Linked DNA regions of Homo sapiens. The protein of the gene in region 2 purifies or fractionates together with the protein of the main gene of each other region. This does not show direct contact. Each region holds a gene or a part of one and is shown on either strand. Other genes may lie near its edges.

Region 1 (3,944 bases), on a different chromosome or scaffold from region 2:
CCTTCAGATACCTGGGCAGGGCAGCACTGTGTCTTCTATGTAGCTTGTATGTAGTTGCTAAGTATTTAATCATTCCCACAGATGATAGCTAATTGGCGTCTTTTAAATAACTTCTTCCCTTGGAATAATGTAAGTGGAATCATGAGAGGCTTGCCAGCTCAGTATGATTTTTGTATAGCTTGTTTAAACCTCATTTATAAAAGCTGACAAATGTAAAACTGGGATTTATTTTCATCTTTGTAATCAAACAGTAAGTTGAAGCTAACTTCAATAGTTAAACTGTCTTAATGAATTTGGAAATGAACTAGCTCTGCACCAAATACTTTGATGTTAAGTATTGTACAATTTCAGGAAGCATTGTCCTTGGAATTGTGGGACATGGCCTGACTGTAAGCTCTCAGAGAACCACAGATTTCCCAGGATAGGTTTAGAAAAGCTTATATTAGCATGGAATTATTTAGCAAAGGTTGAAAAATTTCCTGTAACATACAGGATGAGCATCCCACATCTGGAAACCTGAAATGCTTTAAAACAGAAAACTTTTTGAATACTGATATGATGCTCAAAGGAAATACTCATTGGTGCATTTTGGATTTCAGCCTCTTCAGATTTGGGATGCTTGACCGCTAAATACAATGCAAATATTTGAAAACCTGGAATCAACCGACACACTTCTGGTCCCAAGCATTTTGGATAAGGAATACTCAACCTGTATATGAATTGGGAAAGCAGTGTTTGGGTTTAGCAATGTAGCTAATCCCCTTTGTAATAAGTCTATGGAGAGAGAGGTTATGTAGAAAGGTTATGTTCATATTTTGAGAACATCTCCCATTTGTTAGGAAGGGAGAGGAGAGTTTGCTAGGAAAAAAGGGACCTATTTTATTTGGAGACAACCGTTTTCACCTTTTTGGTGGCTTAAAATCCTAACCTTTTTTGGAAGAGTCTTAACTGAAGCTTATTTTTTTAAGAGACAGTAAATCTGCAGAAATCACTTGGCAATAAGCTATTTTTTTTCTTTTTTTGAGATGGAGTTTTGCTCGTTGCCCAGGCTGTCAGTGGCACGATCTTTACTCACTGCAACCTTCGCTTCCAGGTTCAAGCGATTCTCCTGCCCCAGCCTCCCGAGTAGCTGGGATTACAGGCGCGCACCACCACGCCCGGCTAATTTTTGTTTCTTTAGTAGAGACGGGGTTTCACCATGTTGGCCAGGCTGGTCTCAGACTCTTGACCTCAGGAGATCCACCCGCCTCGGCCTCCCAAAGTGCTGGGATTACAGGCATGAGCCACTGTGCCTGGCCATACTTAACTTTTTGTTTTCTGTTTACATTTGGTATTTATTACAATTTCTCATACCAAGATCTATGAATATTAAATATAAATTTATATGCTGAAAAACAGTAAAAGAGAAGAAAGAGAAGATTGATAGAGAAATCGAGTGTACTAGGAATCTGCTGATTTTATTTGAAGGCATACATTTTGAGGTTCAGACTCCTACAGAGGGATCTTTGTTTTAAAGTGGTGCTTTGAAATTTATTTAGTGAACAATTTTTTTTTAAAGGTCTTGTTGCAGTAGGAGAAAGAGCACAAAAGAGGTCTGGGAACTTCTCTGCTGCAATGAAAGATCTGTCAGGTGAGAGCACGTTTTTGAATTTCCTCTTACCCTAATCCCACCTTGAATTCATTATTTGTTGCAGAAGTTGGTGGAAATAATTTAAAACTGGGTATTTCTCCCCCCTGCAGGCAAACATCCTGTGTCTGCTTTGATGGAGATCTGTAATAAAAGAAGGTGGCAACCACCTGAATTTCTATTGGTCCATGATAGTGGCCCTGATCATCGCAAACATTTTCTCTTTAGGGTAAATATGAATTTCTGCATTAATTATATATATTTATTAATGTGATGACTTAGAGGGTGAGGGGTAAACATGATCACAGGATTAAGATTCTGTTCATGGGTGGGGGGTTTGTATTTGTAGTTAAGTGGTGGGGTTTTTAAACACTGAAGGGTGCTTTAATACGACTTGTCAATGTCCTATTTTTTAAAAAATTGGAAAAGGGTAAAATATAGTATACAATTGTTATTTTCTAGTTGAATGTGGGGAATTAATTTAATACTTTTGTCAGTCTTTTTCTCAATTTGGAGACCTGCTCTAATTTGCAGTCCCTTTCCCAAATGATTTGGTTCTTCGGGTTGAGATTATAATTTGACTTACATAGTATGGGTTTTATATTTTTGTAAATTATTTTTCTAGCATTTAGTGAAAAAATACAAAGCTAATAGATATTAAAGTTTGATGCTGTTCTTATTGTATGTTTTTCTTGAATAGGTATTGAGAAATGGAGCCCTTACCAGACCCAATTGTATGTTTTTCTTGAATAGGTATTGATAAATGGAAGCGCTTACCAGCCCAGCTTTGCCAGCCCTAATAAGAAGCATGCTAAAGCCACAGCAGCTACTGTGGTTCTTCAAGCAATGGGCCTTGTACCAAAGGACCTCATGGCTAATGCCACTTGCTTCAGGAGTGCCTCACGTAGATAGATTGAGGTTTTATAATAATCATTTCAGAATTTTACTCTGCATCACAATGTATTTCCTCTTTAATGTTGTAAATATTTGGCAATTTAAGACATTGTGTAAAAAGCAATCTGTAAAAACATCTCCAGGCTTTGATTTTTGTACCATGGAAATTGTATTTAACCATACAGGGTTTTGGTATGTTTATATTGTTTACCTTAGTGATGTATTTGTTTAAGTGGCTAACATCCAAACGACTGTTTGAAGGCATCAGAGTAATCTTCAGTGTGGAATGTTAAATAACGCTTTTATACTGTATTTTGTACTATGATGTAACTCCCCTTCCTTATGGCTAGGCTACTGTAACACTTGCCTGTAATCAGTGAAGGGCTGTGCACCTTGTACTATTTCACAATGGGTTCTGCTGGACAGATAATGGGCCAGTGTTATTGAGGTGATCAAGATCTGTTCCACAGGGCTAATGCCACCATCTCCCCTCAAAATTTTGTAGAGGTTCTAAAAAGAAAGTGGTATGTTGTGTGATGATCAGCACTAAGTCCTGCATTCCTGTTAAAGCCACTTGGGTCATAAGAAGGGAGTAAAAAATGAAGTCTGACTAGAATTCTATTGCAGAGGCCAGTACATTTAGTATGGCATTGAGTTGTGATATAGTTTTACTTTGATGTGCATTTTGAATTTCAGCTACACCTAGATAGACGTAAAATGATAATTAAAATGCTGTAACCAACTTATCTAATAAAATTGGCAACCAGCCACTATTTTGTTGACTATGAGAAAGTTAAAAGTTTATGTTAATTTTTAGGGTCTGATAGAATATTTCATGTGTATTACAGTGGTATTCATATGCTATGTCTCTAAACTTTATTTTCAAAAGCTTAAGGCCCAAATACAAACTTCTCTGGAATAAACGTGGTGTTTTATTTTCTGGGTTATAAAGTGAACAAATACTTAGATACTATTATTTCTTTACCCAATGCTTTTGATTTTTAAGCACTTTTATTTTAAAAATGTGAATTATACAGTCCCCCCCTACACACACACACACACACACACACACACACACACACACACACACACACACACACACACACACACACACACACACACACACACACACACACACACACACCCCTATAAGCACATTAAATACTACTTTGCCGTGACAGCTCAGTGTACTTCACAATTCTTAACACTATTCTATGTGGAATACAAAATGCCTTTTTATCTGAATTAACATGCATTTAAAAAGTTTTAGTATATGTGAAAATAAAGGAATTATAAATCAGTAGGAAAGATATTAAGGTAGAAGCATCACCAATCAACTAGCTCAGTAGATGTTGTCTGTATTTATTTTCTACCTTTATGAAACAAGAACCTGCTAACAGGTAAATCGTAAAGTAACATATTT
Region 2 (3,500 bases):
AAAAAAAAAAAAAAAAAAAGTAAAAGAAAAGAAGAAAATATATATATATATACACACACACACACACACACACACACACACACATATATTAACTCTTCATGGGCTGAGGTGTAGGTGTGTTTTATGTGTGGAGGTGTTTTTAGTGTTGGGTTAATCCTAGAAAGTCAACACAAATTTGGAACAGGAGCCAGGGTTCACTGGTTAAGCAGGGGATTGCCCAACCTCCCGGGAACATTTCACCTGGATCTTGGATGCGACCTCAGAGTCAGCACCTGAAGCTCCCTGGACACTGGGCCCGCCCCCAGGCCTCTCCCCTCTTTGCCTACTCTTGCTCCCCTGAGTTCCTCCAGCCTCAAACTGGTCAGCTGCAAGCTGGTATCTCCAGAGCCCCACCTCCACGATCTCATGCCCAATGCCCATTCCCACCAGGACGTCCACCAGGCAGTTCATGTTCAACAGCGCCCCCGCCAGGCTTTCCTGCCACAGTGAATGGCAGCTCTGTCCGGTCAGTTGCTCAGTTGCTGGAGGTGGGGAGAACAAACCTAAAACCCCACTTTTTTTTTTTTTTTGAGATGGAGTCTCGCTCTGTCGCCCAGGCTGGAGTGCAGTGGTGTGATCTCAGCTCACCTCAACCTCTGCCTCCTGGGTTCATGAGATTGTCCTGCCTCAGCCTCATAAGAAGCTGGGATTACAGGCGCCCACCACCACGCCTGGCTAATTTTTGTATTTTTAGTAGAGACGGAGTTTCACCATGTTGGCCAGGCTGGTCTCGAACTCCTGACCTCATGATCTGCCCGCCTTAGCCTCCCAAAGTGCTGGGATTACAAAGACATGAGCCACCGTGCCTGGCAAGGACAGGGATTTTCTTCTGTTGTGTGTTCATAGCTGTATGCGCAGGGCTCCGCATGTTGCTGGTGCTATATAACTATTTGTTGAGTTAATTAATTAAAAAGTGCTATGCGGAGAATAAAGATGTTATGGAGAGTGGATGTTTGTGTGCAGCTGTTGCATAAGCAAGGGTGAGGGAAAGGCTTTGATGTGTGTTCTTCTCCTTCGTTTTTTTTTAGATAGAGTCTTGCTCTGTTGCCCAGGCTGGAGTGCAGTGGTGCAATCTCAGCTCACTGCAACCTCCATCTCCCAGGTTCCAGCAATTCTCCTGCCTCAGCCTCACGAGGAATTGGGATTACAGGTGCTCACCACCATGCCCAGCTAATTTTTTGTGTATTTTTAGTAGAGACGGGGTCTCACCATATTGGACAGGCTGGTCTTGAACTCCTGATGAGTGATCCACCCGCCTTGGCATCCCAAAGTGCTGGGATTACAGGTGTGAGCCACCGTGACCAACCCTTCTCCTTCCTTTTTTTTTTCTTTTTTTTTTTTTGAGACGGAGTCTCGCTCTATTGCCCAGGCTGGAGTGCAGTGATGCAATCTCGGCTCACTGCAACCTCCGCCTCCCGGGTTCACGCCATTCTCCTGCCTCAGCCTCCCAAGTAGCTGGGACTACAGGAGCCCGCCACCGCGCCCAGCTAATTTTTTGTATTTTTAGTAGAGACGGGGTTTCACCGCGTTAGCCAAGATGGTCTCGATCTCCTGACCTCGTGATCCGCCGGCCTCGGCCTCCCAAAGTGCTGGGATTACAGGCATGAGGTGCCGCGCCCGGCCAAAGGCTCAACTTTTTAAAGAAAAAAGGACGAATCAAGAGAGGCGGTGATTACAAAAGTTGTTCATCAGGAATTGTCATTGGTTTACAGACATCACATTGATTAGTGATTGGCTATACATGTTTGAACTATAGAGTGTGTGACACTCTAGAGCTACTTGGTATCAGGTCGTCTAGAGTCCAGAAACCAAGTAGCCTCAAAAGGTAATTATTGGATGGGTGCAGTAGCTCATGCCTGTAATCCCAGCTTGAGGCAAGGAGTTCGAGACCAGCCTGAGCAGCATAGAAAGACCCTGTCTCTACAAAAAAGTTAAAAATTAGTCAGTCATAGTGGTGCACCCCTGTGGTCCCAGCTGCTCAGGAGGCTGATACAAGAGGATCACTTGAGCCCAGGGGTTCGAGGCTGCTGTGAGCTATGATGGTACTCCAGCCTGGGCAACAGAGTGAGTCCCTGTCTCAAAAAGTAATTAAAATACATTTTTATAAAGTCCCTCTGAGCCAGGTGCGGTGGCTCACACCTGTAATCCCAGGAGTTTGAAAGGCTGAGGCAGGAGAATCACTTGAGCCCAAGAGTTTGAGACCAGCCTGGACAACATAGTGAAACCCCACCTCTATTAAAAAATAAAAAGGCCAGGCACAGTGGCTCATGCCTGTAATCCCAGCACTTTGGGAGGCTGAGGTGGGTGGATCACGGGGTCAGGAGTTCAAGACCAGCCTGGCCAACATGGTGAAACCTCGTCTCTACTAAAAATACAAAAAAATTAGCCAGGCGTGGTGGTGAGTGCCTATAATCCCAGCCACTAGGGAGGCTGAGGCAGAGAATTGCTTAAACCTGGGAGGCAGAGGTTGCAGTGAGCCGAGATTGTGCCACTGTACTCCAGCCTGGGTGACAGAGTAAGACTCTGTCTCAAAAAATAAATTAATTAATTTTTAAAAAAGTTGTTAAAAAGCCCCTCTGGGCCTGATCCTGATCATCTAAAGGGGCTCTCCTTTCTCAGATAAAAAAGTTTGTTTTCTTTCTCATTCCCTCCCCAGCTCTCCCCCAATTCTTGTTTAAGACAAGGACTCGCTCTGTTGCCCAGGCTGGAGTGCAGTGGCACAATCACGGCTCACTGCAGCCTCCAGCTCCCAGGTTGAAGTGATCCTCTCACCTCAGCCTCCCGTGTAGCTGGGATTACAGGAGCACCACCATACTCAGCTAATTTTTTTTTTTTTTCTGAGAAAGAGTTTCACTCTGTCACCCAGGCTGGAGTGTAGTGGCACAATCTCAGCTCACTGCAACCTCCACCTCCCAGGTTCAAGCAATTCTACCGCCTCAGCCTCTTGAGTAGCTGGGATTACAGGCACCTGCCACCACGCACAGCTAATTTTTGTATTTTTAGTAGAGATGGGGTTTCACCATGTTGGACTCCTGACCTCAAGTGATCTGTCCGCCTTGGCCTCCCAAAGTGCCAGGATTACAGGCATGAGCTACCAGGCCTGGCTTTTTTTTTTTTTTTTTTTTTTGTGAGACGGAGTTTCCGCTCTTATTGCCCAGGCTGGAGTGCAATGGCACGATCTCAGCTCACTGCAACCTCTGCCTCCCAGGTTCAAGTGATTCTCCTGCCTCAGCCTCCTGAGTAGCTGGGATTATAGGCATGTGCCACCACACCCGGCTAATTTTGTATTTTTAATAGAGATGGGGTTTCTCCATGTTGGTCAGGCTGGTCTCAAACTCCCGACCTCAGGTGATCCGCCTGCCTCGGCCTCCCAAAGTGCTGGGATTACAGGCGTAAGCCACCATGCCTGGACTCCATGCTCTTTTTAAAAATTAATTAATGAATTATTTTTTTTTTGAGAC

The links.
Region 1: the proteins of HSD17B14 (region 2) and SON purify together in Homo sapiens (affinity purification with mass spectrometry; one large-scale study listed by BioGRID and IntAct). This does not show direct contact.

What each region holds. Positions count from the first base shown.
Region 1 is NC_000021.9:33,574,038-33,577,981, forward strand, and holds the end of SON (protein SON), read left to right. Parts: intron 1-1,558; coding exon 1,559-1,630; intron 1,631-1,740; coding exon 1,741-1,856; intron 1,857-2,327; coding exon 2,328-2,387; 3' UTR 2,388-3,444; downstream 3,445-3,944. UniProt on the Homo sapiens protein: RNA-binding protein that acts as a mRNA splicing cofactor by promoting efficient splicing of transcripts that possess weak splice sites.
Region 2 is NC_000019.10:48,826,492-48,829,991, forward strand, and holds part of HSD17B14 (L-fucose dehydrogenase), read right to left. Parts: intron 1-3,500. UniProt on the Homo sapiens protein: Catalyzes the NAD(+)-dependent oxidation of L-fucose, yielding L-fucono-1,5-lactone, which rapidly converts spontaneously to L-fucone-1,4-lactone. Can also act on D-arabinose and L-galactose, with lower catalytic efficiency. Does not use NADPH.